Linked DNA regions of Homo sapiens. The protein of the gene in region 1 purifies or fractionates together with the protein of each later gene. This does not show direct contact. Each region holds a gene or a part of one and is shown on either strand. Other genes may lie near its edges. The genes, in order: LCTL, EIF4ENIF1, SC5D, THEM6, DHRS7, STEAP3 and NETO2.

Evidence for each region.
Region 2: the proteins of LCTL (region 1) and EIF4ENIF1 fractionate together in Homo sapiens (co-fractionation; one large-scale study listed by IntAct). This does not show direct contact.
Region 3: the proteins of LCTL (region 1) and SC5D purify together in Homo sapiens (affinity purification with mass spectrometry; one large-scale study listed by BioGRID and IntAct). This does not show direct contact.
Region 4: the proteins of LCTL (region 1) and THEM6 purify together in Homo sapiens (affinity purification with mass spectrometry; one large-scale study listed by BioGRID and IntAct). This does not show direct contact.
Region 5: the proteins of LCTL (region 1) and DHRS7 purify together in Homo sapiens (affinity purification with mass spectrometry; one large-scale study listed by BioGRID and IntAct). This does not show direct contact.
Region 6: the proteins of LCTL (region 1) and STEAP3 purify together in Homo sapiens (affinity purification with mass spectrometry; one large-scale study listed by BioGRID and IntAct). This does not show direct contact.
Region 7: the proteins of LCTL (region 1) and NETO2 purify together in Homo sapiens (affinity purification with mass spectrometry; one large-scale study listed by BioGRID and IntAct). This does not show direct contact.

What each region holds. Positions count from the first base shown.
Region 1 is NC_000015.10:66,559,499-66,562,998, reverse strand, and holds part of LCTL (lactase-like protein isoform 1 precursor), read left to right. Parts: intron 1-1,683; coding exon 1,684-1,812; intron 1,813-1,897; coding exon 1,898-1,993; intron 1,994-3,500. UniProt on the Homo sapiens protein: Plays a role in formation of the lens suture in the eye, which is important for normal optical properties of the lens.
Region 2 is NC_000022.11:31,441,316-31,445,182, reverse strand, and holds part of EIF4ENIF1 (eukaryotic translation initiation factor 4E transporter), read left to right. Parts: intron 1-492; coding exon 493-577; intron 578-2,088; coding exon 2,089-2,221; intron 2,222-3,064; coding exon 3,065-3,409; intron 3,410-3,867. UniProt on the Homo sapiens protein: EIF4E-binding protein that regulates translation and stability of mRNAs in processing bodies (P-bodies). Plays a key role in P-bodies to coordinate the storage of translationally inactive mRNAs in the cytoplasm and prevent their degradation.
Region 3 is NC_000011.10:121,305,999-121,310,377, forward strand, and holds part of SC5D (lathosterol oxidase), read left to right. Parts: intron 1-387; coding exon 388-488; intron 489-1,058; coding exon 1,059-1,514; 3' UTR 1,515-4,379. UniProt on the Homo sapiens protein: Catalyzes the penultimate step of the biosynthesis of cholesterol, the dehydrogenation of lathosterol into 7-dehydrocholesterol (7-DHC).
Region 4 is NC_000008.11:142,725,450-142,730,386, forward strand, and holds the start of THEM6 (protein THEM6), read left to right. Parts: upstream 1-1,773; 5' UTR 1,774-1,897; coding exon 1,898-2,410; intron 2,411-3,511; exon of another isoform or gene 3,512-4,041; intron 4,042-4,937.
Region 5 is NC_000014.9:60,148,016-60,152,394, reverse strand, and holds part of DHRS7 (dehydrogenase/reductase SDR family member 7 isoform 1 precursor), read left to right. Parts: intron 1-2,207; coding exon 2,208-2,330; intron 2,331-2,826; coding exon 2,827-3,042; intron 3,043-4,173; exon of another isoform or gene 4,174-4,379. UniProt on the Homo sapiens protein: NADPH-dependent oxidoreductase which catalyzes the reduction of a variety of compounds bearing carbonyl groups including steroids, retinoids and xenobiotics.
Region 6 is NC_000002.12:119,243,885-119,248,263, forward strand, and holds part of STEAP3 (metalloreductase STEAP3), read left to right. Parts: intron 1-537; exon of another isoform or gene 538-1,604; coding exon 1,605-2,104; exon of another isoform or gene 2,105-2,997; intron 2,998-3,794; coding exon 3,795-4,322; intron 4,323-4,379.
Region 7 is NC_000016.10:47,140,733-47,145,834, forward strand, and holds the start of NETO2 (neuropilin and tolloid-like protein 2 isoform 1 precursor), read right to left. Parts: upstream 3,214-5,102; 5' UTR 2,881-3,213; coding exon 2,847-2,880; intron 1-2,846. UniProt on the Homo sapiens protein: Accessory subunit of neuronal kainate-sensitive glutamate receptors, GRIK2 and GRIK3.

The DNA.
Region 1 (3,500 bases):
CTTTAATTGATGTGTGTAGTAAGTGAAAAGAGTGAATCCTTTTGTTTTCTAAAAAACTTGGCATAAAAACAAATTTTAAAAACTATAAAGATATGTCTTTTAACTAAGATCTGGCAGCCAGGCACAGTGGCTCACGCCTGTAATCCTAGCACTTTGGGGGGCCGAGGTGGGTGGATCACCTGAAGTCAGGACTTCGAGACCAGCCTGGCCAACCTGGTGAAACACAGTCTCTACGAAAAATACAAAACTTAGCCAGACGTGGTGGCAGGCGCCTATAATCCCAGCTACTTGGGAGGCTAGGCAGGACAATCGCTTGAACCCGGGAAGCAAAGATTGCAGTGAGCCGAGATTATGCCATTGCACTCCAGCCTGGGCAATGAGAATGAAATTCCGTCTAAAAAAAAAAAAAAGATCTGGCGACATAGCATAATGAACAAGTTTAGCCTTTTTTCTACAATTTGTTTGAGCCAGTATCACAAGCACTCATATATGACCCCTGCCCCAGCAATGTCCATGAAATCACAACATGCTTCAGAACGTCACTATGTCACTGTGATTCAAGCAATATTTTCTTTCTTTTGTTTTTTTTTTTTTTTGAGATGGAGTCCTGCTTCGTCGTCCAGGCTGGAGTGCAGTGGCATGATCTCGGCTCACTACAGCCTCCGCCTCCTGGGTTCGAGTGATTCTCCTGTCTCAGCCTCCTGAGTAGCTGGGATTACAGGCATGTGCCACCACGCCCGGCTAATTTTTGTATTTTTAGTAAAGACAGGGTTTCGCCATGTTGGCCAGGCTGGTCTCGAACTCCTGTCTTCAGGTGATCCAGCTGCCTCGGCCTCCCAAAGTGCTAGGATTACAGGCGTGAGCCACTGCGCCTGGCCTCAGGCAATATTTTCATTCACTGGGGAGAAGGTGGTCCCATCGGTGCCCTGGAAGGTTTGGGCAGGAGGTGGGAGGAAAGGGTGTTCTGATTGGAGGGCGCATGGCAAAGAGGGGGAAGCTGGGCAAGCAGTTCGGTTCAGTTAGAATTTGGGGAGCAGGTAGGAGAGGGAAGGGTTAGAGGCTGGAGAAGTGGCTTGGGGAAGACCTCGAAGGCCTCGAGTGCTGAGCTAAGATGACTGGGAACTGGGTTTATTCTGTGGGAATGGGAGCTACCAGAGTCCTCTAACTGGGCAGGAGGGCAGAGCAGGCTTTAGGGAGATGAACCTTCCAGCTTCTTCCCTGGTTGCTTTCATGAGCCTGCCCCATTAACATCCCCTCAAACCCACCAAGGAGAGCTGGACAGGTAGTCTCGATACAGTGACAAGTCTTGGGAGAATTCTGCCGTCATGGGCAGATGTCTTTGGTTGGGAAAGCCCTCTGCCGAAGAAGGCAGACTCTGTCCCAAGGCTTCTAGGAGCTTTCTGACATCTGTGTGGCCCTCAAAATCCTCATCAGAGTGTTCATCCTAGCATCAGATCTCATTTCTCCAGAACTTAGATCTAAGATGCTTCCCCATTATTAGGCCCCTTTCCCCTGGCAATTTTTCTTAAATATTCAATCCATCCAGTTCTTTCTAGGCATGAGAGTCCCAGTCTCCCTGTGCGGCCTCCCTCCTGTTTGTCTGAGGACTGTCACACAGCTTATCTCCACATTTAAACCGCTTTGCGGTTCATTCATGGGGCATCTGCTTCTCTGTGTTCACAGCTGCTCCAGGTCAAATACGGTGGGTGGCAGAATGTGAGCATGGCCAACTACTTCAGAGACTACGCCAACCTGTGCTTTGAGGCCTTTGGGGACCGTGTGAAGCACTGGATCACGTTCAGTGATCCTCGGGTAAGCAGGGCCCCTCCAGGTGGGAGAATGTGACACTCCCTGCCACTTCTTATGGATCCTGTGGTCCTGCTTGCTGTCCCTATAGGCAATGGCAGAAAAAGGCTATGAGACGGGCCACCATGCGCCGGGCCTGAAGCTCCGCGGCACCGGCCTGTACAAGGCAGCACACCACATCATTAAGGTGAGGTGGGTCCTTCTGGTGGAGGAACAGCCTCAGGGTCAGCTCAGCCTGCCCCAGGGGCTCTAGCCTGAGCTTGGTCCTCTGCCGCTCCACCTCCGAGTCAGCATACTCCATAGCACCTTCCCTTCTGTGACGATTTATGGAGGGCGTGTTCTGTCATTCAGGGCGCTGGGGGACACTATGGCTGAGCTGTTATAGCGACTCCCAAGAGCTTACAGCCTAGCCAAGGGGACATCCATGTGGAAATGCGTCAACTACAGGTCCAAGCTGTGACAGGAGGAAGAAGGGGTGTGACAGCGAGCCAGGGGTTAAAATCTTCAATGAATCAGTAGAAGTAACTGGGGTTGATCAAGGACAGCAGTAAGAGGAGTTAGAAGTGGTCATCAGAGTGTGGACTTCAAAGAACCTGGGAATTTTGAAGGAGGAAGGAAAACTAGTTTGGAAGCAGCGATAATGAGCAGGCAGACTCCACCTTACTCCCAGCTCAGAGGTATGTGGAGTGTGATGGAACAAATGGCCTCTGCTTGAAGGAGCTGCAGCGGAGGTGCTCTTAGGGCCAGCAGGCATCAGTCACACAAGAGAGTAAAGGGGCCATTCGGAGAAGATGCTGCAGGAAGGAAGGGCTACTGGAAAGCCTTGTCGCTGGGGAAGGAATTGGGTCACATTACAGGACATGTATGAGGGTATACATGATGGTAACTGGAGAACAGGGATACGAGGCATGCGGGATTGGCCCCAAAGGACACTTAGCGGAAGGTGGACAATCTGTCTAAGCTGGAAGGCAAGGAACCACTGGGTGACATTCCAGATCCCCAAACTCATATCAGGGAGAACATTTTCTCATTTTTTCTACATTTGGCTTATGATTTCTTAAACTGTGAATATTTAAAGGGCAGAGCTCTCAAGATTTTTTTTTTTTGAGACTGAGTCTTGCTCTGTCACCCAGGATGCAGTGAAGCGGCGTGATCTCGGCTCACTGCAACCTCCGCCTCCCGGGTTCAAGCCATTCTCCTGCCTCATTCTCCCAAGTAGCTGGGACTACAGGCGTGCACCACCACACCCAGCTAATTTTTGCATTTTTGATAGAGACAGGGTTTCACCATGTTGGCCAGGCTGGTCCTGAACTCCTGACTTCAGGTGATTCCCTTACCTCGGCATCCCAAAGTGCTGAGATTGTAGGCATGCGCCATAGCGCCCCGCCTCAAGATATTTTTAATATTAAACATGGAAGTCATTTTCTGGGCCTTCTTATCCATCAAAAGTAGTGAGCTGAAGAGACGCGATTATTTATTTATTTAGAGACAGATTCTCGCTCTGTCGCCCAGGCTGGAGTGCAGTGGCACGATCTCGGCTCACTGCAACCTCTGCCTCCTGGGTTCAAATGATTCTCCTGCCTCAGCTTCCTGAGTAGCTGGGATTACAGGCATACGCCACCACACCCGGCTAATTTTTTTGAATTTTTAGTAGAGACAGGGTTTCACCATGTTGGCCAGGCTGGTCTCCAACT
Region 2 (3,867 bases), on another chromosome or scaffold:
GCGCACCTCACTGGTGTAGTCTGCAGTAAACTATACACCAGCTCTGGATAACCCTACAACTCCCAAGTTCCTGTACCTATTCTGTCTACCTGAACTGTTGTTCTCTAGCTTCTTCTTGATCGCACCCAATGGAATGCAGCTTCTTCCCCAGGAAGCATCCCTGCAGTGCCTTGTTATTTCTTCTAACCCCTCCATTTTCCCATTGTACTTTGTTGGTGCCTAATATCTACATGCCTTGGTTTGCTCTAGGTGATTGTCTCCCCCGCTAGACTGAGAGCTCTTACAAGACTGGGACTGTGTTTCATTTTCCTTTTGTCTTCCCTCAGAGCTTAGCATGTGCTTTTGTGTATGTTAGGCCTAAATGCTTGGGAAATTGAATTGGATAAGGGAAAGGGGATGTTAAAACTTCTAGGCTGGTCTTGAGTATTATATGGTTTTAAGACTTGAAGTTAAGCAGATTGGGGTTCATGCTGATAATTGGTTTGTTCACAGGCAACAGCGAGTGACCAAGTCACCAGCACCCGTGCATCGAGGGAATTCCTCTTCCCCTGCCCCTGCTGCCTCCATCACAAGCATGGTCAGTGACCTTTAGTAACTGTGAAGGACTTTAAGGCTTCTCCCTGTTTGGTTGTGCATGGATTGTACCACTGTGTGCCCTAAATGTCCTTGAGTTCCTTCCACGGAAATAACTGACCTAGTAGTTTTTCATAACTGTCTATTAGGTCTTTCCCTTTTAGGACACAGTCTAAGTCTTAGGATTTTAATGAAGCCCCTATATTGGGGAAAATATGTTCCAGCAGAGATGATCATGGGCCAGGGCACACGAGGTGATATAGTATGTTCAAAGAAATGAACCAGGTGTGGGGAGACAGGAGGACGATAGTGAGAGACAGGAGGTGAAGTGGACAGAGGTGACTGGGTCAGACAGTGGGGAGTCTATTGAAACTTGCAGGGGAGTTCACAAATTCGGATTCACCACTTCAGGTCTCAGTGATATAAACTAAGGCTGGAACAGAAGGGTTTGCTTATATGCAGTGAGAAGTCTAGTTTTATAACTATCATTACTTTAAAAAATGTTTCATTCCAGCTGGGCGTGGTGGCTCACGCCTGTAATCCCAGGACTTTCAGAGGCCGAGGTAGGTAGATTGTTTGAGTTCAGGAGTTCAAGACCAGACTGGGCAACCTAGTGAGACCCTGTCTCTACCCCTAATACAAAAAATTAGTCGGGCATGGTGGTGCACATCTGTGGTCCCAGCTATACTCGGGAGGCCGAGGTGGGAGGATCACTTGAGTCCAGGAGGCAGAGGTTGCAGTGAGCCAAGATCGTGCCACTGCCCTCCCTAGTGAGTCCCCGTCTCAAAAAAAAAAAAAAAAAAGGTTCATTCCCCACAAATCTTTATCATCTAATCAAAGCCGATAGAGAAGAAGGAAAAAAAAAAATAACTTTGCTGCGTGCTTCAGAACCCCACGTGGGTCTTTGCACCGGTGACCTTGAAGGCAGCAGGGTTTGGAAAGAACTTTTTTGTTTATAAGTCAAGCCCTGTCTCCTGCCATCAAAGATGTGGGGTTGTTTGGTGAGAAAAGGCAAATGCATAATAAAATCACCAAGGTAGAAATAGTGAAGAGGTAAGAAATGACTCCAAATGATTAATCCTGATGGCTGAGGAGACTATTGAGATAAATTTGACTTTTCTGGTAGCCAAGTTAAGGGAAATATTAGGAGTATGGAGTAATTCTGGTTTTGATGTTATCTTTGAAATGTCAAGGAAGGTCTGTTGCTCCAAGTTATATTTCTGGCCATGTTCTTTCTCTTGCCAGCCTAATCCCAGGCTGGGAAATCTGTGACGCAGAGGCTGCATAGGCATGTCCCCATTATCACACAGTTGTAAGCAAGGGATAATGTACTTGGGACACTGCCTATTTGCCCCATTCTGTTTTTCCTCCAGCAGCTACAGAACAGAATACTACAGTTGGCCTATGCTACCAATGTGGGGACTCTTTGTTGAGTATCTTGACAAGTTAATCCTGGCTTAGTATTAGAGAACGGCACTTAGAGAATGTGCTAATGCCAATTGTTTTTCTCTGCAGCTTTCTCCTTCCTTTACCCCTACCTCAGTGATTCGTAAGATGTACGAGAGCAAAGAGAAAAGCAAGGAGGAGCCAGCATCTGGAAAAGCAGCTCTTGGTGACAGTAAAGAGGATACTCAGAAGGCCAGTGAAGGTACTGCAGAGCTGTTAAGGGCACTGCTCAAGAAAGTATGTGATGGAGAAAACATGGGCCTGAGCGCTGACCAGCCTGATATTCTATACAAAGCCCTGGGCAAGACCACTAGCTTCTCTGGACTATGGTTCTGTGTCAGTGAGAAGGTTCTGTGTGACAGTGAGAAGAATTGGGCCAGCTCACAATTGCTTGGTTGCTTGAAATTTGACCAATCTAAGAGTGCTACTACCAGACGGGTAGAATGAGTGTTAGTTTAGAATCCTTAGTTAGGCTTCAAAGTTAATAATTAGTATACTTATTTGGCAAATTAATATAATTCAGCGAGTTTTACTTCTGAAAGATTATGTCCAGCCTGTGGAGACTTAAGTGTCCAACATAGAAAATATGTGAGAGGCTTTTAGGAGTTGCACAGTAGGGATTGTGAAGGACGTGGTAACATGCGGATTCCAAATTAGGGTTTACAGAGGTGTTAAAAGTACAGATCTGAGAGATTTTTGCCTGTGTTTGAGAAGGCTTGGGGTGGGTGGTGGGGAGGAAATCCTGTTGGTACTATTAAGACAGTTTGGGTTCTTTGACCAGACTCTAATTGCCATTTAGATTTTCTGTTGTGATAGATTTGCATAATCTAGGCCACAGCCATTTGTGCAGAGAAGGGTGCCCAACAATTCATCTTCTGGTCCTGTTTATGAAGCAAACGATGGTTCCTACCGTGTAGTCCTCTAAACTTGTTAAGGGTATCAGATAAGAATTGTGACCTTAAGAAATGAGATTTATTAGACCAGTGGGAGGCCACAAGTGTTTGGGAGAGGTTTGCCAAAATATTTTTTGTTTGGTTCCTCACAGAAAACCTCCTGTCATCCAGCTCTGTACCCAGTGCCGATCGAGACTCTTCTCCCACTACAAATTCCAAACTGTCAGCATTACAGAGGTCTTCGTGTTCCACCCCACTGTCCCAGGCCAACCGTTACACCAAAGAACAAGATTATCGACCTAAAGCAACTGGGAGAAAAACACCCACCTTGGCATCCCCAGTTCCTACAACACCTTTTCTCCGCCCTGTCCACCAAGTTCCCCTTGTCCCCCATGTCCCTATGGTTAGGCCTGCTCACCAGCTTCACCCAGGGTTGGTACAGAGGATGCTGGCCCAGGGAGTACATCCACAGCATCTTCCAAGTTTGCTCCAAACTGGTGAGTTTCCAGCCTGACTTGGGTGTCGTCAGTTTGTGGGCCTAGGGGACAATTGTTGGCACTGATGAAGTGCTATAATGTGGGAGATTTCCATCCCTAGAAAGATGTTACTAGATTCTCCCATCTAACTGGCAGGCAGTGGGCCCAATCCAGTCAATCCCCTAGTCCTTTAAAAGATTAGGAACCTAGCTTGAAGATTCTTTTTTTTTTTTTTTTTTTTTTTCCTTTTTGTAGAGACAGAAGTCTCACTCTGTCTGCCTGGCTGGAGTGCAGTGGCGCAATCTCAGCTCACTGCAACCTCTGCCTCCTGAGTTCAAGCAATTCTCCTGCCTCAGCCTCCCGAGTAGCTGGGACTACAGGTGCACGCCGCCACACCCGGATAATTTATTTTGTATTTTAGTAGAGACAGGATTTCACCGTGTTGCCCAGGCTGGTCTCAAACTCCTAAGTTTAGGCAG
Region 3 (4,379 bases), on another chromosome or scaffold:
AAGTATTTAGTGGAAAGTATATTTTAAGCAGGGAGATAATGTGTAAAGATGGGTTTTAGGAAGATTAATATGAAGGAAGTGATGATTCCCAGAGATTTAAATAATAAAGATGTCTTAGGAGTATCCTGTCTCACAAATATCTTTATAGTTTAATTAAGAAGTACTTTAGGTAGAACATTTCAAGTACTTATGCGAGGGAAATGAGGAAATGACCAGATTCCAAGAAGCCAAGAGAGATTAGTTTATAATATACTGAATTAGCCAGAACAGATCATTTATAATGTTTGAGTCTAGGATCCCATTTTGCACTCAGATGGACATGTGAAAAGTGAACTCTAATCCCAGGAGCTGAGTTTTGATTCTTCTGTTTCCCGTTTTCTTTTCTAGGATTGTTTGAACTTGTCGTTAGTATAATATCTTTCCTCTTTTTCACTGACATGTTCATCTACTGGATTCACAGAGGCCTTCATCATAGACTGGTATATAAGGTAAAGTCATTTGTGGTGAAAAGAGAAAAAAGGTTACACATTTCAGCAATGTATGATTATAAATTCTGTTCTCTATTTCCAAGAATTTCCTCTACCCATATTAAATGTCTAAGTAGCCATAATCATAACAGGTACAGGGTGCATTTTGTTCATATTCTTCTTTATGGGTCTAAGGGGCTGTCTTAAAATTCGTCTGTTCCGGTAACAGGTACACATGGACTTACAGAGGGAACAATAGACATTAGAGACTCCAGAAGGTGGGAGGATGGGAGAGGAGTGAGGGATGAGACGCTCCCTATTGGGTACAATGTGCACTCTTCAGGTGCTAGGTACACTAAAAGCCAGACTTCACCACTGTGCAGTATATCCATGGAACACCACTGCACTTGTACTCATAAATCCATATAAAATTATACTGTTTTAGGGCGAAGAAGGACATTTTATAGAATAAATAATTTTGCTGATCTCTACAGGATTTGTTAGGTTGTTTCCAACATGAGTGTGAGAAGCTAAGTTGAATGTTGCACGGGGTAAAGTTTGCAGTGCTAATTGTGTCCTTTTCTCCTGCAGCGCCTACATAAACCTCACCATATTTGGAAGATTCCTACTCCATTTGCAAGTCATGCTTTTCACCCTATTGATGGCTTTCTTCAGAGTCTACCTTACCATATATACCCTTTTATCTTTCCATTACACAAGGTGGTTTATTTAAGTCTGTACATCTTGGTTAATATCTGGACAATTTCCATTCATGACGGTGATTTTCGTGTCCCCCAAATCTTACAGCCATTTATTAATGGCTCAGCTCATCATACAGACCACCATATGTTCTTTGACTATAATTATGGACAATATTTCACTTTGTGGGATAGGATTGGCGGCTCATTCAAAAATCCTTCATCCTTTGAGGGGAAGGGACCGCTCAGTTATGTGAAGGAGATGACAGAGGGAAAGCGCAGCAGCCATTCAGGAAATGGCTGTAAGAATGAAAAATTATTCAATGGAGAGTTTACAAAGACTGAATAGATTATTGCCCAGTTATTCTTAAGTAAGGACAAAGAAGGAAATATCATCGTATTTCTTTTTTTTAATAAGGAAAAAATAATATCCATACAGTCAAGATACATAGTAAATGGTATCATTTGGAAATCAGCATCGTGGGCACTGCTGAGGAATGATCCTAGTGGTAGGTCAGAAGAAGATGCTGTGAACACCAGGACTTTAATCTTATGCTTAAAATGCCAGATGTTGTTCGGGGGACAACTTGTATCTTTCTAGCAGCAGATCTGTAGTTTGTATAGCCTCAACAACAATTTTAAATAAGATGGAGAATAAATTATTGAGGGGACTAGGCTATATGCATTTGCCTTCATCCACCCATGTTTATTAAGAATCATTGTGCTTAATAATACCAAGACTAAGCACCATAACCAAGAAATACTAATGTAAAGATTGTTTCTTGTTTCAGGAATGGTTAATTCTTCAACGTTGGTATGATAATGATAACTTGTTTTGACTTGAATAAAGTACTACATCAGTGTGGAAAAAAATTCTGATACATTAGCAGCTATGTAAATGACCTAATTGATAGCAGGTGTAATAAGACTATCGTCTTCCTACACATAGGAGGCTCATTCTCTGGACACACTATCACCTATTACATTTTACTGATTAACAAATAAATTGGAATTTAAAAATATCGATATCACCATGATTTAATCCAGATCTGGGATTATGTAGCTAAACATTGTGATGATTATTATTTAAAACCATTATTTAATAAGAGTAAAAATATGTGAATCTGGATATATTTAAAAAAAGAAATTTGATGCCCAGATAATATATTAGGCACTACTGATTTTTTAGTTAAATTGATGCACTACACTTTTGATGTTTGAAGTTACAAACCTGTAATTTTTTTGTAAAGGAAATAATTGCCAAATACCTAGGCCCATTGCTGACGATTAGTTCTAAAATCTTATTCCTCCTCTTCTCCCCTCACTTTTCCCTACTTCCTCTGCAAAAAGATTTAACAAATACATTCATAAGGAAATGTGTGTTGTAACAAATATATTGCAAAAACATAGTTTGTAAAGGCATTCTATAAGCTATTTATGTAAAATCAATAAAAGTTGATCATAATTAAACTGTATCAGTTGAGTATTATAGCAGCACAAAGTATTCTTTGTACAGATTTTGTGCCAATTTGAAGCCACAGAAATGATGTGGATTGTTAATTGTGTTTTAGAACATCCCCGGACACTCAGTGTCACAGGGGGAAAGAAGTGGGTACCACATTCTGTTTATATTTCACATTTTAACTAGATTTGAGTGTTTTTAGCAAGAAATCAGTCTTAAAATCTAATGTCTGGGATCCAGAAGAAAATGTCTTTAATCTGTGAGTTATTGTCACAATGTCATCTTATTTAAATGTACCAATTAGCATTTTGTAATAGGCAAATGTCATTTAGTGCTTTTCACCAATCCCACTCACCCCCGGTGCTCCGCCTTGCCTAAGAAAAAGAAATTAAGGAGAAGTAAACTTTATTTCCTAATATAATGTCAGCTGATATTTATTGAGCTTTTCCTCTTTGCCCAGAGACTAGGACCCAAAGAAGTTAAGTAACTATTCCCAGGTTTATTTCTCTCTCATATGATGTCCCATGTGGATGTTTGTGGTCAGTGGACAGCTTTCCACCTAGTCTTTCTGCGACCCAGGCTCCTTCCTCTTGGGGCTCTGCCTTTCTCTCAGTCCATAGAGCCCTCTTTGTTGAAAGAGCACATAGGAAAAGAAGGAAAAGTCTGTGTGGAAAATGTTTCTGGGTCAGGCCTGGAAGTGGTGCATATCTCTTCCGCCCATGTTCCTTTGGACAGAACTCCGTCACATGGCCCACCTAGAGAGATTTTGGGAAATGTGTCCAGCTGTGTGCCTGGGAGGAAGGGGGCACCATTTTCTTGAGCAGCTAGACAGTTTGCCGTATTTGTGGTGTTCTCCTCTTGTTGATGTTGAAATGGTGAATGAGCCATAAAGTATTTCAGGTTATCCACACACTAATCATCTCAGTGTCTTTAATTCTTAACTCCAATATGAATGTTTAAAGCTTCCTCTAGATTCTTATTCCTATATAACTAATAGAGAAGAAAGGACAGCTTCCTATGGGGAAGACAGAGGCTTCCTCATAGATGTTAGGAATAATCAAACTTGCCCCTGCCCTTTCACCCGTCTCAAATTCTGGTCTTTTAAAGCAGCGTTATGTTAAGTAGTCCTAACATTGTAATATACAGTACTGCCACATTCTCCTACTTTCTATTAGAGGAAGTCAGAGAATATTTATGGAAGTGAGGACCCAAATTACCTTCTACAGATGACTTTTATAGTTACAGGACAGAAAGTGAAAATCAAGGTTACGTTTTCTACTTTTGTGGTAGAAATTGAGAAGTGGGTGGATATGGTTCGAGAAGACCTTTCAGAAACACAGAGACTGAGTCTTTGTCTTCCATGCTGTCTCTGCAGTACTGAGTGAATTTCCTTATACCCTTGTATCATGTTTTCCTCCCATCTTCTAGAAGCTGGGGACAGATTTGGAAGAGAATTACACAAGTTCAGTTTTTTGATACATGGATTTTACAGTGCATGCAGGTTATTTATGTAGAGAGGAGGTCTGGGAGAAAGATGGAAACTAGGGAGATGACTGAGAACAAAGATATTTGGGATTAACACAGATAGAAGAAAAGTTTGAAACCATGAGATTGTCACAGCATGAAAAAAGATATTCAAAGACACTAACCAACTTGAGGGGTGCAGTGGTCTGAATGTGTCCTCCAAAATTCAAATGTGGAAATGTATTTGCCAGTGAGATAGTATGTAGAGGTGGGGCCTTGAGGAAGTGA
Region 4 (4,937 bases), on another chromosome or scaffold:
TTCTCAGGATCTTCTGAGGCCGTGTGACAGGCCACAGTCACTTAGATTTGGCTCAGAATAAATCTCTTCAAACATTGCACAGTGTTTCACTCTTTTTGTTGGCAAGGGGACAACATGGGTGACCAGGAGGCTGCATTCTTTGAGCAATGGCCAACAGGCTCAACGGCTATGTCCTCAGTCCCTTCAGCCCAAAAGGCCACCCCTCCCTGGGGCAGAGGGCTCAGAGCCCAGCTACGACAAGGTGACACTTCAGGGACAAGTGTGAGCAATGCTAGGGTGTTGGGAATAGGCCCCCAAAATCTGGCCATAAACAAAATCTCTGCAGCACTGTAACATGTTCATGATGGCCATGATGCCCACGCTGGGAGGTTGTGGGTTTACCGGAATAAGGGCAAGGAACACCTGGCCCACCCAGGGCAGAAAACCGCTTAAAGGCGTTCTTAAACCACAAACAATAGCATGAGCCATCTGTGACTTAAGGACATGCCCCTGCTGCAGATAACTAGCCAAACCCACCCCTTTATTTTGGCCCATCCCTTTGTTTCCCTAAGGGGTACTTTTAATCTATAATCTGTAGAAACTGTGCTTATCACTGGCTTGCTGTGAATAAACACGTGGGTAAATCTCTGTTGGAGGCTCTCAGCTCTGAAGGCTGTGAGACGCCTGATTTCCCACTCCACACCTCTATATTTCTGTGTGTATCTTTAATTCCTCTAGCACCGCTGGGTTAGGGTCTCCAGGACCGAGCTGGTCTCGGCACTGGGGGAGCTGCCCTGATAGGTAGTGAGCTCCCTGTCCCTGGGGCTATCAAGCAGAGCCAGGTGCCGCCCCAGGGAGCTCCTTCTTTGAGGGCGGTCCAGAACCCTGGAACCCCAGCCCAGGCCCAGGCCTGAATCCGGAGCTTGTTTAACCCAGCAATTCCGGGACCCCATCCCCGGTCGCTGGCATCCGCTGTCATTCGAGAGCCTGGGGCTGACGGGGAGAGCTGGTCCGGCCTTCTCTGGGCCGCCTTTCCTCCCCAGCCTCGTCAGGAAGGGGCACAGGACAGCCGAGCTGTGCGACAGCCCGCTGGGCCTGCGCCCCAGGGCCTCCGGCGACACTTGGAGTCCGCAGCTGAGTCACTGACTCTCACCCGGGCTCCCCCGCTTCCGCCCGGCCGTGATTTGCTCCGGTTTCAAAAGGGAGGAAGGGCGGGAATGCTCGGGAAGAGCCTGGGGTTGGCAGGACCTTTAGGGGGTGGAATGAATGTCGTGAGGGCGAGTAAGGAGGTACCGGCTGGGGCTGAAAATGCGCACGGGGACCATGAGCGTGATTCGCCCTGAGCCGCTGCGAACGCCCTGCGAGCTGGGGTGGCCCTGGAGGTCCTGGAGCAGAAGCTAGGTTCCCGCAGAGTCCGCTGCAGCGCCGCTGGCGATCGGGCTGGGTCCCATTTTCCACGAAAAGTCCCGCGGCTTCGGCCGCGGAGGTGCTGGAGCCTTTGCGCTCAGACGAAGGGCCGAACGGCCAGGGCCAGGCCGCGTCTTCAGAGCCTGGCGAGGGTCTCGCGCTGCTGGGAAGGCGGAGACGCCGGGGCGCGCGTGCACCCTCGCGCCTGCAGCGCCGCGCACGGCCGCCAGGTGCCGCTGTGGCGCTCAGCGCGCCGCCCGCCCCGCCCCAGGGAACGCGAAAGTGGCGCGGGCCTGGACGGCGGGACGGACCACGTAGGGCGCTGAGAAGGTCGCGCCACGGTGGGCGGGGCTCCGGGCCCCTCCCCCTCGGCCGCCCTCGCGCTGTGGTTCGCTCCGGGCGCGCTGCGCTCGTGAGTTCCCAGGAGGCCTGGCGGGCACCGTAACCAGCGCCGCGGACACCGGCACCGGCGCCACGGACTCCGCAGGACCCCGCGCCCGCCGCCGCCGCTATGCTGGGGCTGCTGGTGGCGTTGCTGGCCCTGGGGCTCGCTGTCTTTGCGCTGCTGGACGTCTGGTACCTGGTGCGCCTTCCGTGCGCCGTGCTGCGCGCGCGCCTGCTGCAGCCGCGCGTCCGTGACCTGCTAGCTGAGCAGCGCTTCCCGGGCCGCGTGCTGCCCTCGGACTTGGACCTGCTGCTGCACATGAACAACGCGCGCTACCTGCGCGAGGCCGACTTTGCGCGCGTCGCGCACCTGACCCGCTGCGGGGTGCTCGGGGCGCTGAGGGAGTTGCGGGCGCACACGGTGCTGGCGGCCTCGTGCGCGCGCCACCGCCGCTCGCTGCGCCTGCTGGAGCCCTTCGAGGTGCGCACCCGCCTGCTGGGCTGGGACGACCGCGCGTTCTACCTGGAGGCGCGCTTTGTCAGCCTGCGGGACGGCTTCGTGTGCGCGCTGCTGCGCTTCCGGCAGCACCTGCTGGGCACCTCACCCGAGCGCGTCGTGCAGCACCTGTGCCAGCGCAGGGTGAGCGGCCCCCGCCCCTGGCCCCGGAGCACGGCCTTTGTGGGACCTCCGGGGGCTCCTCCTAGTCCCTGGCCCCCTCCCCTAGGGAAGGCCCGCTGCCTGCACCTCTTTCGGATACTGCTGGAGTCCTGCCTCTTACCGCTCCCGCCCCTCCCTCTCTACCGGGGGCATTCCTCACTGATGCCTTTGTTCGTGGGGGTTCCTAGGGTCCCCGAATCAACTCTTCATAGTCGGGCTTAGCGTGCTTCCCTCCTGCCATTTCTTAACCTGGCCCCTCACGGTTTCGTGTTCACCCCTCTCCTCTCTCCTGGTACTCTGTTCTGTGGCTGGAGTGTTGACCTCTCTGGTCCTTGGTCCTGAATATAGGTTGGAGAGGTGATCAGTTAGAAGAGGTTCCTAGGAGTTCCCGAGGACCTGAGCCCCCCTTTCACACAGCTTAGAGCTGAAGGGCTGGGTTCTGGTCACCTGGGTTTGGGGTTGAGGTATTGAGCCGAGTAGCTGAAAGCCTTCTGGCCTTTCTGCAGTTGGAGAGAGGAGGGCCATGCACCTCCCAGGGCTCGCTCCTCCCAGCAGGGCAGAACCGCCCCTGCAGCATGGCACCTGGGGCCCTGGGGACGGCCACCAGGCCGATGTGGCCAGACCAGTTGCCAGAAAAGTTGCCTGGAGCGTCCGTGCAGGAAGCCAGGGCCTGTGCACCCCTGGTGTGCCCTTAGGGCACTGCCCTCTCCGGTCTCGGACAGGTGCCTCCCGAGCAGACGAGGGTCAACGTCTCATCTCAGTCCTGATGTTACAGGAAAGGGATTCAGATCCAGACCTCAAGGGAGGGTTCTTGGATCTTGTGTAAGAAAGAACTCAGGGCGAGTCTGCAGCGCACAGTGAAAGCAAGTTTATTAAGGTAAAGCGGTGAAAGAATAGCTGGTCCGTAGACCCAGTAGCATGTTCCTGTAAGAGGAGGAACGCGTCCACCCTAGGTGCAATGCTTGTATATATGGGGAGATGTGATCTGCTACAAGGGTTTGTGATAAAGGAGTAATTTTCTTAATTACTATATTTTGCAAGAATCAATATTACTATTTTCTTTTTTTTTTTTTTTTTTTTCAGACGGATTCTCACTCTGTCGCCCAGGCTGGAGTGCAGTGGCGTGATCTCGGCTCACTGCAACCTCCGCCTTCCGGGTTCACGCCATTCTCCTGCTTCAGCCTCCCCACTAGCTGGGACTACGGCGCCAGCCACCACGCCCGGCTAATTTTTTGTATTTTTAGTAGAGACGGGGTTTCAAAATCAGGAATGCCTTTGTTCTCCAGACATCGGGATATCTGGACACTCCCAAGTCTGGGTCTCTTTAGTAAACATTATTAATTTGTTCCCTTAACTGTGTTTGAAACGCTTGTTCCCCGGTGCCGTAAAGAAATAGCACGTGAACATAAATTTAATTTCCTCAGCAAGGCCATTTTTACTTCCTGCAGAAAGGGTACACTCGCCAGCAGCTTTGCCATGAGAGTACACCGAACAAAGGAGACAGGCTCATTTATAACCTGATGTGTAACAATCGCTTTTATTTAAAGTGCGAACGGAATATTTAATCCATTTCAGCCAGGGATTTGCATCTTGATACTCTCTCGATGGCTAAGGTCTGTTTTAGATCTCTTATTTTTACAATAGACACCCTAGTTTTATTATTAGATGTAGAAGCAACCGGTGTGAGATCTAGAACTGAGGCTACTGAAGAAGGGGGAGATGGGGGAATAATGCGTATTTAAAAAATACCTAGGGGGTCTTTTCCATTTATGTCAATCCCCATACCACAGAAGCGACTGAGGGCAGGTCTAGAGTTAGTTAAGGTGGAGGTGGTGATAGAGAAGGACAGGGTTACACTGATAAGGCTGACAGTTCGAAAGGGTAGTCCTTTCAGTGAAATAGATGAGGGGTTTTAGATCTGCACAGACCTTTTTCTTGGAAGTTTAACTTTGCTCCTGAGCAGTTGAATGTGTATAGTCCCGTTTACTACAAAGTTGGCAGGCTATAGGAGCAGAACATTGGCATCTTGGCTGCAGGTCATTACGATAATGAGAGCTAGGGGTAACCATGTCCATCAGAGGGCTGGGACGTAAGCATTTGTGTGAAAAGGCTAGCTGTTGTTGATCTTTTACATTTCCGCAAGGTATGACAGAACAAGCATTCAAGGCGGTGGTCTGAGGTGAGTTAGTTACAGTAATAACAAAGGCGCTAGTAACAATAAGGAAAGGAAGCAATATGAAGGTACAGGAAAATTAAGCTTTCTTTAACTTTAACTTAGTAGGATTGGTCCTAGTACAGTCATCCATGATTCTGAGAGAAAGATGTTTTCTTGACTGGAGTGTGGTCGTTTTTTTCTTGGCTCTGCGGATGGCAGTCTCAGTGGTTAACAGCATAAAATAGGGTTCTTCCCAGGCTGGCTCAAGTTTTTTCTTTCTGTCTTTTGATGAGGACGTGGTTTTCAGGCTGGTGCTGGTGTACTGGAAATTCTAGGGGTGGTACCTAGAACTAA
Region 5 (4,379 bases), on another chromosome or scaffold:
TCTTGACTGTATTCTCTCTGGTTTCATTGGAAGAAGAAAATCTAGTCAAGGCAGAGGCAAGGAGAGAAGCTTGATTTGGACTGCATAACTTACGATGTATAAATATTAGAAATGGATGAATTTTTAATGGTGGCTTAAGACTGGATATAAAGAAATTATAAGGCCAATAGGAAAAGAATGATTAAGGAAGACACAAAATTTATATTTAAAGCTGTTGAAGTCAGTTTAAGTAGAATGTTTCACTGTTGGAATCATGAGATGCAATAGCTACATGGTCATCATGGTTTCATGAAAATTTGAAGCTTTGGTTCTTTAGGACATCTTTTTTCTGCTGCAAAGTGCAGACAATTGCAGACAGTGATGAAGCGGAATGCTATACTGATGATTTCCTCATATTTAGTAACAGGCATCAGTCACTTCCTGTGGAGCAGTTGGGCAAGCCTCAGGCAGGCAGATGAGGGAGGGCGGCCACCCATCTGTTTGGCACCACGTGTCTCATAAGATATGCTGGATGCTTTCAGTAAACACAGATGAGCTGTCTGGCCTGCCCTCCAAGACTCATTATTTTATTACTGGATTTGATCCTATGATAAAATGTGGCAGGTTGAGACTGTAGTTACCAGGAAGCTCTTTTTGAAGAGCACATTTCCTTCTCAGATTCTCAGTAAACTACAGAATTAACTTGTTTATCATTGAAAAGTTTACACACAATACTAGATGTGATTTCAAACAAGGAGAGGTTTTAGTGTTTGATATATTGGCTTGCTTGGTGTCCTCTCTCCTCTTTTGCTACAGAGAGGCAGAAGGTTAAAGTTATGGGAGTTTTCCATTCAATTAGCAAGCTTTTTTTTTTTTTTTGGGTTCATCTCTGAGTCTGGCACTGTATTGGTCTCTGATCATAAACCCTCATAGCCCCTCTGTTTGTTGGGGTCAGCATTTCAGAGCTGATAACTGTTTAACATTTTTGGATCATATACAATGTACTGTGGGTTAGCTGTTTAGGCTTTTCAATAGATAACCCAGCCTTATAACAATGTAGTCTTGGAACATTTCCTAATTTAGGAAGAGATGAGAGGCAGTAGATTTCTGTTTACTCCCCATTGGTTTAGAAATGGTCAGTATCTTTTTAAGTCTAGAAGGTCTAGTCTGTTTTACACAAGTCATTCAGTAGGCAATCATATTACATTTTTAATTAGCCACATACCCTCTTATTACCCAAAAAGATAAATGTTTGCTAAAATGAATTAATACTGTTAAAATAGAAATATAAATGGAAAAAGTTGAATTCATTCTTTCTGATACTTTCTGTGAAGTACTAATCCCATCTTCCTCACCTTTGCCCCAAAAATTTGCACTTTAGACTACTTTGGGGAATAAATAGAAACCTGACCTCAGTGATTCTCAGTGGAGGACATATACCCCTTTTGGAGTGGGGAGAGGAGGACTGGTATGAAGAGCATATATCAGAATCTATAGGGATAGTTCTTTTTACCTATCCAGTGCATGCCTACCATAAAAATCATTGATGGGAAGACCCCTCACTATCAAAGGGGGTGAACCATTTATACCTGGAAAGAGCTGAGAATGTCTGTTCTAGATTGCCTCCAGTCTACTGTTAAAAGTGCCTTATACACTATTCACAATAGCAAAGACTTGGAACCAACTCAAATGTCCATCAATGATGGACTGGATTAAGAAAATGTGGCACATATACACCATGGAATACTATGCATCCATAAAAAAGGATGAGTTCATGTCCTTTGTAGGGGCATGGATGAACCTAGAAACCATCATTCTCAGCAAACTATTGCAAGGACAAAAAACCAAACACTGCATGTTCTCACTCATAGGTGGGAATTGAACAATGAGAACACTTGGACACAGGAAGGGGAACATCACACAGTGGGGCCTGTCATGGGGTGGGGGGAGTGGGGACGGATAGCATTAGGAGATATGCCTAATGTAAATGACCAGTTAATGGGTGCAGCACACCAACGTGGCACATGTATACATATGTAACAAACCTGCATGTTGTGCACATGTACCCTAGAACTTAAAATATAATAATAAAAAAAAGTGCCTAATAAGCTTGCATGATTACACTACCTGTCCTTTACTCACACATTTTAGAACATATTTTGATAAATCATGAGATATGTGTCTGTATTTATTTGCCTTTTTCCTTTTTTTTTTTTTTTGTCTGTTAGGGTTTTTTTAATGGCCTTCGAACAGAACTTGCCACATACCCAGGTATAATAGTTTCTAACATTTGCCCAGGACCTGTGCAATCAAATATTGTGGAGAATTCCCTAGCTGGAGAAGTCACAAAGGTAAAAATTTCTAGTTGGGAATAATTTGAATGTTTACTAGTTATATATTGGCATTATATATTGGTGTTGTATCACTGTATATCATAGTTTTTGCCTTAGAAGTGCTTTTATGTGAATTATTCACAAAACTCCTGCCATTATGAAAATTGTTTATGGAATTTCATTTGCTAAATGCATTGTCTTAATAGTTTGATTTTTATTACAAAAGTGATAATTGTCATTAAGCACATTAGGGTGATGCAATTCTAATTAAAAGCAAAGAATCTTCATCTTTTAGTTAGCCTGCACTATATTATCTAGTAAGCATATGGTTTCTGTTAGGCTTTTTGAAATATTACAAATAGTTTATAAACTCCCATTAGTACCTATGGAGACTCCTAAGGGGCATGAAGCTCCACTAAAGGAACCACTCAACTAGACGGCATTTGAGTCCTTTCTAGCTTAAAGTTATGTGAAATCGCTTGGATAAATTCACTTAATTTTTAACTTTTCTTAGACTATAGGCAATAATGGAGACCAGTCCCACAAGATGACAACCAGTCGTTGTGTGCGGCTGATGTTAATCAGCATGGCCAATGATTTGAAAGAAGTTTGGATCTCAGAACAACCTTTCTTGTTAGTAACATATTTGTGGCAATACATGCCAACCTGGGCCTGGTGGATAACCAACAAGATGGGGAAGAAAAGGATTGAGAACTTTAAGAGTGGTGTGGTAAGACCAATTTCTAAGTTTCTTAATAGTATGTACCAATCTTGCAGGAAGGTACAGAATTTTCCAGTGTTTAAAAAACTTTCTGGCTGGGTGCAGTGGCTCATGTCTGTAATCCCAGCACTTTGGGAGGCCAAGGCAGATCACTTGAGGCCAGGAGTTCAAGACCAACCTGGCCAACATAGTGAAACCCCATCTCTACTAAAAATACAAAAAGTAGCTGGGCATGGTGGTGCATGCCTGTAATCCCAGCTACTCGGGAGGCTGAGGCATGAGAATTGCTTGAACCGAGGAGGCGGAGGTTGCAGTGAGCCAGGATGGTGCCACTGCACTCCAGCCCGGGTGATAGAGCGAGACTCTATTTCAAAATCAAAAAACCTTTCTAACCCTCCACCAATCTCATGATATAAAGAAAAATAAATAAAAAATATTTTATCCCCATGCATATATTTTGGTTTACTATAAATTATTACTAGTCTTGGAGAGAGAAGTTTCTTACAAGGTAAAATCAAATCAAAGATTGCCATGTTTTTCTTCTATACATATTGTTTGACCAGTGTGTGTGTCAAAATGCTCTTTCCCTACTGTTTCTCCCCACCAACTCCTACCCATCCTACCAGTCTCAACTCCCATGTCACCTCCTTGGAATGGTACCTGGCCTTCCCTCCCACTTCTCCCCAGGACCAAGTGCACCTCAGCCCCTATGCTTTCCTGTCAAAGCACTTACTGTGTTGTTAAAACAGATGCATGCAGTTTTACCTCATTCCCGAAGTACTCAGCACATCTAAGATGTGCCTATTCCCCTGTCTAAGGAAATATGCTGATTATCATTCTTTCAGCACTCATTCTTTATAGCAATTAGTCAGGGAATACTATTAACCATTTCTGAGAAATTGTGACCCTCAAAAGAATTTAATTTATAGACAGTACAGGAAATGTAATGAAGTAAACCAAAAATTATAGATGATTATGCAGCAAAAGATTATTGCTGAGGATGGTTTTTACTGTTAGCCTTTGATATACTTTGTTACCACCTTCTTTTAGAAATTAATCAATGGGGATTGACAGATAAAAAAAGAATTATAAAACAAGATCATACTATATATACCTGCAAAAATTTAAGCAATCCACTAATTGTTAGACATTTAATTTATTCCAACTCTTTGCAGGACAGTGAAAATGAATTAGGGGGTAAAAAGTTACAAACACAACAAAATGCTTAAGAGACATAAAAGGTTATCAGACTGGGTCATGACACACTAAAATGTCCAGAGTGTGAAAAATCAAAAAGGAGCTTTTCGTTTTCTACCAAGTAGTAATGTGGAACAGTTTGCTTTGGG
Region 6 (4,379 bases), on another chromosome or scaffold:
GTTCCAGGAGAGTGTTGTGGAAAAGTAGGAAGAGGCAGACGCCCATGGAGGGTGTTGAAAGCCACCCCAGCTGCTCTGCTGCTTCAGGGCAGGGGATCTTAAGCCCTGTGGAACTGTAGGCTGGTGAAGCTTGTGGACTTCTGCTCAGAATAATGTTCTTACATGCACCAGACAAAATAGCTTAGGGTTACAAATGAAATATATTATATGGAAACACAGCGAAAATATTTTTTAAAAAAGACTACAGTAGCATTAGGCATGCTTCTTTATTAGCACATTAAATGACAAGCTCTAGTGGCAGATCTAATGTCTACCATAATTTTATTTTTACTTTTATTATTATTATTATTATTATTATTATTATTATTATTATTATTTTGAGATAGTCTTGCTCTGTCACCCAAACTGGAGTTCAGTGGTGCGATCACTTCAGTCTTCAACTCCTGGGCTCAAGCGATCCTCCTGCCTCAATGTCCTGAGTAGCTGGGACGACAGGCGTGTGCCACTGTGCCTGGCTAATTTTTTTTTTATTTTTTTAGAGATGGGACCTCCCTGTGTGGCCCAGGCTGGTCTTGAACTCCTGACCTCAAGCGATTCTCCTGCCTTGACCTCCTGAAGTGCTAAGATTACAGGTGTGAGCCACTGCACCTGGCTAGCATGGTTTTAAATTTGTGCTCAATTTAAATGGTATTAGGATAAATTATTTACAGGTAAATTTATGATATGATCTTGGTCAGTATTAATGAAAAATTATGTTGCCTACCTTCATACTTAAAGGAAATAGCAAATTTTAGTTAGAAGTTGGTGACAATTAATATATAATAATTTTTCCATCCAAGTTTACTGTAGACCGATGGCCCGAGTTCAGGGTTTCCTCCACATCCACTCATATCTTGGGCTCAGCAAAGAAGATCACAGGGCACCCACTCTATCTTAGGGGCCCATTCACTTGTCTCTCAGTCCTGCCCTCAGAGATCAAGGTTTGGTGTTCATTCATTCATTCATTCAGCAAACACTGAGCACTGCCTCCGTGCCAGGCTATGATACACAGTGAGGTCCAAGGTCAGATGAGATGAGGTCCTGCCCTCAAGCTGTTCACCATGCTTCAGGGAGAGCATAAGAAGAACTGCTCCAAGATGCAAAATGTAGACAAGCATAGGGACATGCTCACCCTTCCTGGTCATCAAACACCCAGCGATGGTGAGGTTGGGGTTAGATGGTCACTCCTGGCTAGTGACACTGTCCATTGCCTAATCCTTTTGAAAAGAAGTATGGCACTGCATCACATTGGTCATGGAAATTCCAGAGTTCCCTTTCCCAGCACTCTCACTCTGCCAGTTTTTCCCGAGGAAATCATTCAGCAGGAGGGACAAAGGGTGGAGGGCAGAAGTCATCCCTGCTCTTCCTGAGTCTGTGCTCTCCCCAGGGAAGGGGCTGTGTTGTGTTCAGCTTGTTCCCCTGGTGCTGACACGTGGTAGCACTCGGTGAACACCTGCTGGGTGAATGTCTGACTGCCGTGTAGTTACGATGTATAAGAGGAGGGAGGTGGCAGAAGGGGCAGTCCAGGAGCCCTCCACTGACCAGGTTCCTGACTTCTCTTGCAGCCACCAAAATGCCAGAAGAGATGGACAAGCCACTGATCAGCCTCCACCTGGTGGACAGCGATAGTAGCCTTGCCAAGGTCCCCGATGAGGCCCCCAAAGTGGGCATCCTGGGTAGCGGGGACTTTGCCCGCTCCCTGGCCACACGCCTGGTGGGCTCTGGCTTCAAAGTGGTGGTGGGGAGCCGCAACCCCAAACGCACAGCCAGGCTGTTTCCCTCAGCGGCCCAAGTGACTTTCCAAGAGGAGGCAGTGAGCTCCCCGGAGGTCATCTTTGTGGCTGTGTTCCGGGAGCACTACTCTTCACTGTGCAGTCTCAGTGACCAGCTGGCGGGCAAGATCCTGGTGGATGTGAGCAACCCTACAGAGCAAGAGCACCTTCAGCATCGTGAGTCCAATGCTGAGTACCTGGCCTCCCTCTTCCCCACTTGCACAGTGGTCAAGGCCTTCAATGTCATCTCTGCCTGGACCCTGCAGGCTGGCCCAAGGGATGGTAACAGGCAGGTAGGTTCTGGGGGAATAATACCCATCGTAACAATAAATATAAATGGCTAATTTTCATCGAGTGCTGCCAGCATGCTCTTTTTGATATGTTATCATAACTAATCCTGCATCACTGCAAAATTCCATTTTACAGAACAGGAAATTGTGGCTCAAAGACATTAATGATCTTACTGAAAATTCCATAGCTGGTAAGTTGGGATTTGAACCCAGTTCCTATGGATCTGAAACCCATGTTCTTTCTGCTATGGTAACAGGGTTTCCTAGAGGGCAAGGAGGAAAAGGTTGATGGCTTTTTGCTATTTGGAGCCAAGAAGGAGAGAGACTTGGCTTTTAGAATTGGACTCAGAAGGAGGAAAGTAACACACTTATGTACCCGGCCCTGAGGAAGGCAGGCATGTCTCAAATTTTATCGTATTTATTCTAAGGGCTTCCAAGAACTGATTTCTCAGAAAAGTCAACAGCAGGTTTTTCTGGGGCTAGATAATGGCTCCACGGAACAGCTAGAGCTGCATACGTTTCTTGCCACGAGGAGCTCTTACCAAGACAAGGTGGTTTTTAATGCCACCTTGGTTTTTAATGCATTTTCTTGGCGAAAGAATGCCAGACTCCATGTGTGAGAACTTCCACCAGTGAGTCGAGCCCAGGTGCCAGGCTCTGTAGGACAGTTTAAAGGTGCCCAGCCATACCTGACTACAGCACCTTAAATGCAGGCTGCATCATGGGACTCCCAGGTATGGACCAGGAGGAACAGTGGAGAGTGTTGGATGCAGGGCCTGGAGGGAACGGAGCAAGCAAGCTGGCTGGAAAAGACTTGGAGGAGGGCTTTGACCTGGGCCCACCTCATGCTGTCAGGCTCAGGGAGCAGGGAGTGCATTCCAGTCTGAGGGAACAATCTGAAAAGGCACAGAGATAAGAAACAATGCTCCTAGACCTCAGTTTTCTCACCTGAAAAATGAAGACTATAGTACCTACCTGCGGGCTCATGGCAAGGCTGAGAGATCATATATGTAAAGCTCAGCATAGAGTAGGTGTTCAGTCTGTGTTTGGAGACTAAACTGACCAATGCAGTGTCAACAAGGCCCACGGGGTGCTTGGGGATCTGAGGACTGCAATGTGCCTGCAGGGGGACCTCGTGGGTCAGAGCAGCGGGCTTCAAGGCGGAGAGGGCAGGCTGGAGCTGGCTTGTAGAAGGCCTTATGTGCTGGCTGAGGGCTCTACTGAGCCGAGGGACATCATCAAGGGGGGTGATTCTGAACTGAGGGATGGAGCTGCAGCCACAGCTGCCCATTCTGCACCATACGCAAAACTCTTTTGCTGAGCGGCTCCCAGGGCAGGCCACGGCCTTGGAGACAGCCATGTCGGGGGCCCATGGGGACTACCTGGATGAGCATTTTGCTTGTGGTTGCTGATGTCCACGAGCTGGGCAAGATGCTTACTGTTTGCAGCTTCCCTCCTTGAGTAGTTGGCCTGGCTTGGCAGGTGGGCCAGAGGCTGGGAGGCCTGGGCAGCAGAGAAAAGACCCCTAGCCTGGGAGCTAGAACCCCATTGGCTCCCACCTGTACCATTGACTGGCAGCTCACTTGAACAAGTCCCTGCCCCTCTGGCCCTCGGTTTCCTCAGCTGCTCAGTGAGGCCCTGCCCACTCCTGTGGCCTGTGACGCCGTCTGACTGCCCCACTTTTCTCCCGCAGGTGCCCATCTGCGGTGACCAGCCAGAAGCCAAGCGTGCTGTCTCGGAGATGGCGCTCGCCATGGGCTTCATGCCCGTGGACATGGGATCCCTGGCGTCAGCCTGGGAGGTGGAGGCCATGCCCCTGCGCCTCCTCCCGGCCTGGAAGGTGCCCACCCTGCTGGCCCTGGGGCTCTTCGTCTGCTTCTATGCCTACAACTTCGTCCGGGACGTTCTGCAGCCCTATGTGCAGGAAAGCCAGAACAAGTTCTTCAAGCTGCCCGTGTCCGTGGTCAACACCACACTGCCGTGCGTGGCCTACGTGCTGCTGTCACTCGTGTACTTGCCCGGCGTGCTGGCGGCTGCCCTGCAGCTGCGGCGCGGCACCAAGTACCAGCGCTTCCCCGACTGGCTGGACCACTGGCTACAGCACCGCAAGCAGATCGGGCTGCTCAGCTTCTTCTGCGCCGCCCTGCACGCCCTCTACAGCTTCTGCTTGCCGCTGCGCCGCGCCCACCGCTACGACCTGGTCAACCTGGCAGTCAAGCAGGTACCCACCCCATGCCCTTCCTCCCTCTGGCAACTCAGCACATGCTTGTCCAGCACC
Region 7 (5,102 bases), on another chromosome or scaffold:
GTATAACTAGTTTATAGTCCTGGGTGAAATGTAAGAATGAAAAACGAGTTAATACTTGCACCGTCTCAGACAAGATTTTTAAATACAGTGCCAAGGAATATTTTTGCTGTTACATTACAAATTTAACCAGTTTCTACAGCTTGAAATATTGCTGAGTCGAACAGATTCTCCTGAAGCAAGTGTGCAGAATAAGAACAAAAAATGGATTTATAATCCTCATGTAATATTTTCATGAGACTATAATGCTTAGTTAACCTTGACAGAAGATTAACTCGAATTCTGTGAGGCCTAGAGTGATCACAGCTAAAAGTGAATTTTTTAGTTTCAACAACATAGGAAAGGTTTAAAAGCCTAGTAAGGTTATTCTTTTGTCTTAATGGCTGAAAGTAAAACAAGAATAATCAGTGGCATCTTAAAGAACTAAAATTACTTTCTACTTAAAATCTCACACACTCATTATGGCTGATTTATTTTAGTAGAAACTGACCATAATATTTCAAACAAGGCTTCTGTGGGTAATATCCACAATTATGTAAATGTTAAATAGCTGCTTCAGATAAGAACCTCTTTGATGTTAAAGCAATTCACTTTATAGGATAAAAGGAAAACTTCTTCATGCCTTGGGGCACACAATGAGTAGTTTGTAATGGGAAAGGCCAGTATCTTTTTAAAGGCAACTTTTTAAAATTAAAATATTGATTTTTAAATAAATTATACATGCGTTTGGTAAAAAAAAAAAACAAAAACAAAATCAAGTGATACAAATGGGTGTGCAGTGAAACCAGTCTTCCCTTCATTCCTGTCTTTTAATCCCCTAGATTTCCGTATTAGAATCAACTACTGTTAACAATTTATTGAATCTTTCCAGACCAGTTATTGGCATTTACAAGTTGATACCACAGACGACTTTAAAAATAACTTGCTTTCTCTCTAGGAAGCCGCCACCAATAGCAGCAACAACAATAATAATTCAGCTTGAGCTTTAAAAATACTCCAGCATGTAAAAATAGTGTAGGCTAACACTGAAAAAAGAAAAGCCAGACACTATATTGTTTTCACCGTAGCTCTGCCATCACCAGAATCCTTTCCTGAAAGGTACAACACTCAACGCTTCACCACGATGGCCAGAGAGGGCAGTGTGCACCCACGGGAAAGGCAAAGGCAGAAACGCTGCAAATCCCTTCACCATTGGAGGAGGCGCTACCAGCCCCTACCCTATCCAGCTCGATTTTATCAAGTTCTGCAGGTAAAGCGGTGTGACAGATCTACGCGATTTCATCCGGGGGTGCTCTCGGATGCACGGTCAGTAGCATGCTGACAACCTTACCGTAGTGAGGGCGCAATCCGACAACGGCAGAAAATTCAGATAAGCAACACGATCAGAAATCCTAGTGTGCATACGGTTTATCACGAAAGAGTAAAAACATTCCTTTCCCAGGAATGACTGTAAAAATTAGGAGTTAGAGATATGAAAGCCACAGGATGAATTTCAGAGTTGTTTTCAATTGTAATAAAGAAATCACTACGGATTTACGGTTTGTGAAATATTCATCAGCTAGAAAGTCCTAGGTTACCTTAGTACAAGCTGTAGATACGTTTACAGTGGGGTAGTTAAACGTTTCGAATTACTGAAATCTCAATTACGAATTTAGGAATATGTGGAGAGTAGACAATGTGTCCAATTAAAATCAAAAGCAAAATTACACTGAACTTTCTAATAAAACAAATTTGAAAAAAGTGCTGTTAGGGAGCAGGAAAAAAGTCACTCTACAAATATTAAGATACAGTGCTGAGTTATACATAACACCGTTAATAATGCCTCAGCCGTACCCTCGAAATTTTTAAAAAAAGAACATGTTACGACATTACAAACACGTCAGCTTTCAATTTAAATCAGCAGGGGGAAAAAGGGAAGTCCTTTACTGAGTGGTGGTGCTGTTTTCCCTCTGGAAATTGAAAAGACGATTTATTCAGTCCGAGTTTCAGGAGCAACTTTGTATCCCAATCCTAATTATCTATGTATATAAATTTTCATCTAAATTACCACCTCCTGGGAAATGCAAAGCCGGTGGAGTAGGTTTTAGAGCTCTGTGCTCTGGACAAGCCAACTGTTTTAATTCCCAGTACAACAAATTAGTAAGAACCGAACACCAGCGGCGGGGAATTCTGAGACCTCTGGCGGAGCGCGAGGAGCGCCGCGTCCCGGGAAGCACCCGAGCAGCAGCGCTCCCCGGGGGCCGGGACAAGCCGGGTCCGCGGCGCCCGCGCGCCGCCCCCGGAGCCCGCAGTGGTGCCGCAGCCTCCGTGGCCGCAGCAGGTGGGACCCGGCTGGCCCAGCAGGCCCCGTTCCCCGCCGCGAGGTGCAGGCGCCGCGGGGCTATTCGAAAACCACTGCACGACGTCACGGCCGCGGCTTTTATTGTTCTCGTGGAATTACTTTTTGCCATCACATCTGGAGAAAGAGCGGCCTCCGCTCCACGACAGGAATCTCACAACTTTGCAAAGGGATGCGCGGAATTCTACGGAAGCGGCGCGAGGGCGCAGCCCGGAGGGCCCTGCTGGGCCCAGGGGCCTCCTGGCCGCCTTCCCGACCCGATCCCTCTTCCCACACGCGCCCCGCGAACGTCGGCCGGACTCGCAGGGGTCGGAAGCGGCGCGCCCGGAGAGCCGGCGGAGCCGGGCAGGGCTCGCGCCCCGCGGTCCGCTCCGAGTAGCCGCGAGCCCCGCCAGACAAAGAGGCGCGTCGGGTCCCGGGCGCGGGTAAGGGACGCAGAGGCGCGGGCAGGGCGGCGCGCCAGCCTCGGCCCGCAGGGGGCGCCGTCCGTGGCCCCAGCCCCGGTCCTTACCTTTGAGGACCGAGCAGAGCCGCTCCAGGGCCATGTTCCCGAGCTGCCCGGCGCTTCGCGAAGGGCTGAGGTAGCGGCGGCGGTGGCTCGGCGCTCACGGCTCGGCGCGGCGGCGACGGCCCCACTCCGTCCCCATCGCCGGCCAGCAGCTGCCTCCCCGCTCCCCTGAGGAGAGCTCAGGTCCTGCGGCCCGCCATGCCCGAGCCCCACAGTGGGCTCCCGCGCGGCCCGAGCACCCCGACGGGCGCCGCCTCCTGCTCCGCGGCGCCCCGTCCCATCGACCGCCCGAGGGCCGAGGAGTGCGGACGCGCGGCGCGGGACCGGCAGGCAGCTCCGCCCGCGGCCCCGGCGCGGGATCCACTGAAGTGGCGGGCGCGGGGCGCCCAGGCTCATTTAAGGAGGGAGCGCGAGCGCCGCGTGCCGGCTGCGCCGCCTGTGCGCATGTGCCCGCCCCGCCCCGCCCCGCGCCGCGCCTCGCGCGCCCGCCGCGGCCTCGCGCCGTGGGACGGCGTCGCTCCCCGCCGGCTGCCGTTAGGGCTGGGAGCCGGCTGGGCGCGGGGGTAGTGAGGGTGCCTCTCGCCGTGGCTGCGCGGCGGCCTCGTCCGAGAGGCCGGCGCCGGGGCAGTGACCGGCCCGTGCCCAGCCGCCGCGCAGGGCGCCCGGGGCAGCTGGCCGAGCCCTCGATGCCTCCCGTCTGACGGAGGCGCCCGGGAAGCGCCGCCCACCTCGGCCCCGCACCCTCGCCGGCCTGCCGGGTCTCCGCCAGCCCTAGCAGACAGAGAGGGGCGCCGGTCCCTAGTCCCCCAGACCTCCATTCAAGGTCAAAACTTTGCCCAGCTCAGCCTTGCTCGACCCTGGGCAGGGAAGCGCGGACATCGGCAGAGGGAGCCCGAGGCTCTCCGTGCCCTTCGCGCCGGTGAGTTCCCGACCCGCGGCGCTGCCGGCGTTTCCCTAGCGCCCGCCAGGTTGACAGGCACTTTAGTACCAACTCCTCAGACTCCCCCTCATGAAGTAGGTTTTAGGGGATTGGAAAGTCGAGGCCAGAGAGGTGAAGCCCTTCGTCCAGAGCCGCGTAGCGAATGAGCGGCAGGGCTGTGCACCTCCCCCGGGGCTGCCCTCCTAGCAGCTAACCACTACGCTGGGCAGCTTCGCCAGCTGATGGGAGTCTCCAGGTCTGCCAACAACTGCCTGGCTGTTGGTGGTATTCATGATCCTGCTTTATTTTCTCCACAGCGGTTATCACACTGATATGACCTTCCTCATTTATTTATTTGTTCATCCTTTATATCTCCCTCACCCTCACACCATTAAAATATCAGCTGCTTGCAGGCAGGCCGACTGCATTCATTTTTTTCACTCCACACATACGTATTGGGTGTTAATTATGTGCAGAAGACAATGATTGGTGCTGGAGATAACAACCGTGATCAAGGCCTTACCATAATAGAATATTTATGCCTGTCTCTGCGTGTAGTAGGAACTCTGTAAACGTTTGTCTAACCAATTGTAGCTAAAGACAATGTCAGGCAACTGAAACATTTTTCAGGTGTTAAGCTCTTCTCTCTCACTTTGTATTCCTTCAAGAAAGGTACAAAAGCATAAATAATTCATGAGATTTACAAAGGAAAAACATACTTAACACCAATTAATATCGAGGTGTTTCACCCTTTGCCATGTGCTGTGAATGGGGGCATAAAAGATGGGTAAGTTTGGGTTCCTAAAGGTAACCACCTACTACAGTTAAGATCGCACACGAGAACCAATTAGGAAATAAAACATTTAAGAACTTTTTCCCACGGATATGAAAAGGTGGCTCACGCATGTAATCCCAGAACTTTGGGAGGCTGAGGCAGGCGGGTCACCCGAGGTCAGAGGTTTAAGACCAGCCTGGCCGACATGGTGAAACCCCATCTCTACTAAAAATACAAAAATTAGCTGGGCGTGGTGGCACGCGCCTGTAGTCCCAGCTACTAGGGAGGCTGAGGCAGGAGAATCGCTTGAACTGCACTCCAGCTTGGGCAACAGCGAGACTCCGTCTCAAATAATAATAATGATGTAGCATATTAGTAGAATAGGAGAGTAAGAAGACAATATTAAGTATAGGTTACAGACAACAGTGAACCAAAAAAATTTGAGAGGAAGGGGCTCTCAAATTAACATAATAGTTTCTTAATGTGAAGTTGTTGACTGAAGGAAAAATCTGCGTGTCATGTCATCAGAGAAGACTTCCTGAAGGAGGTGACACACAAACCATGG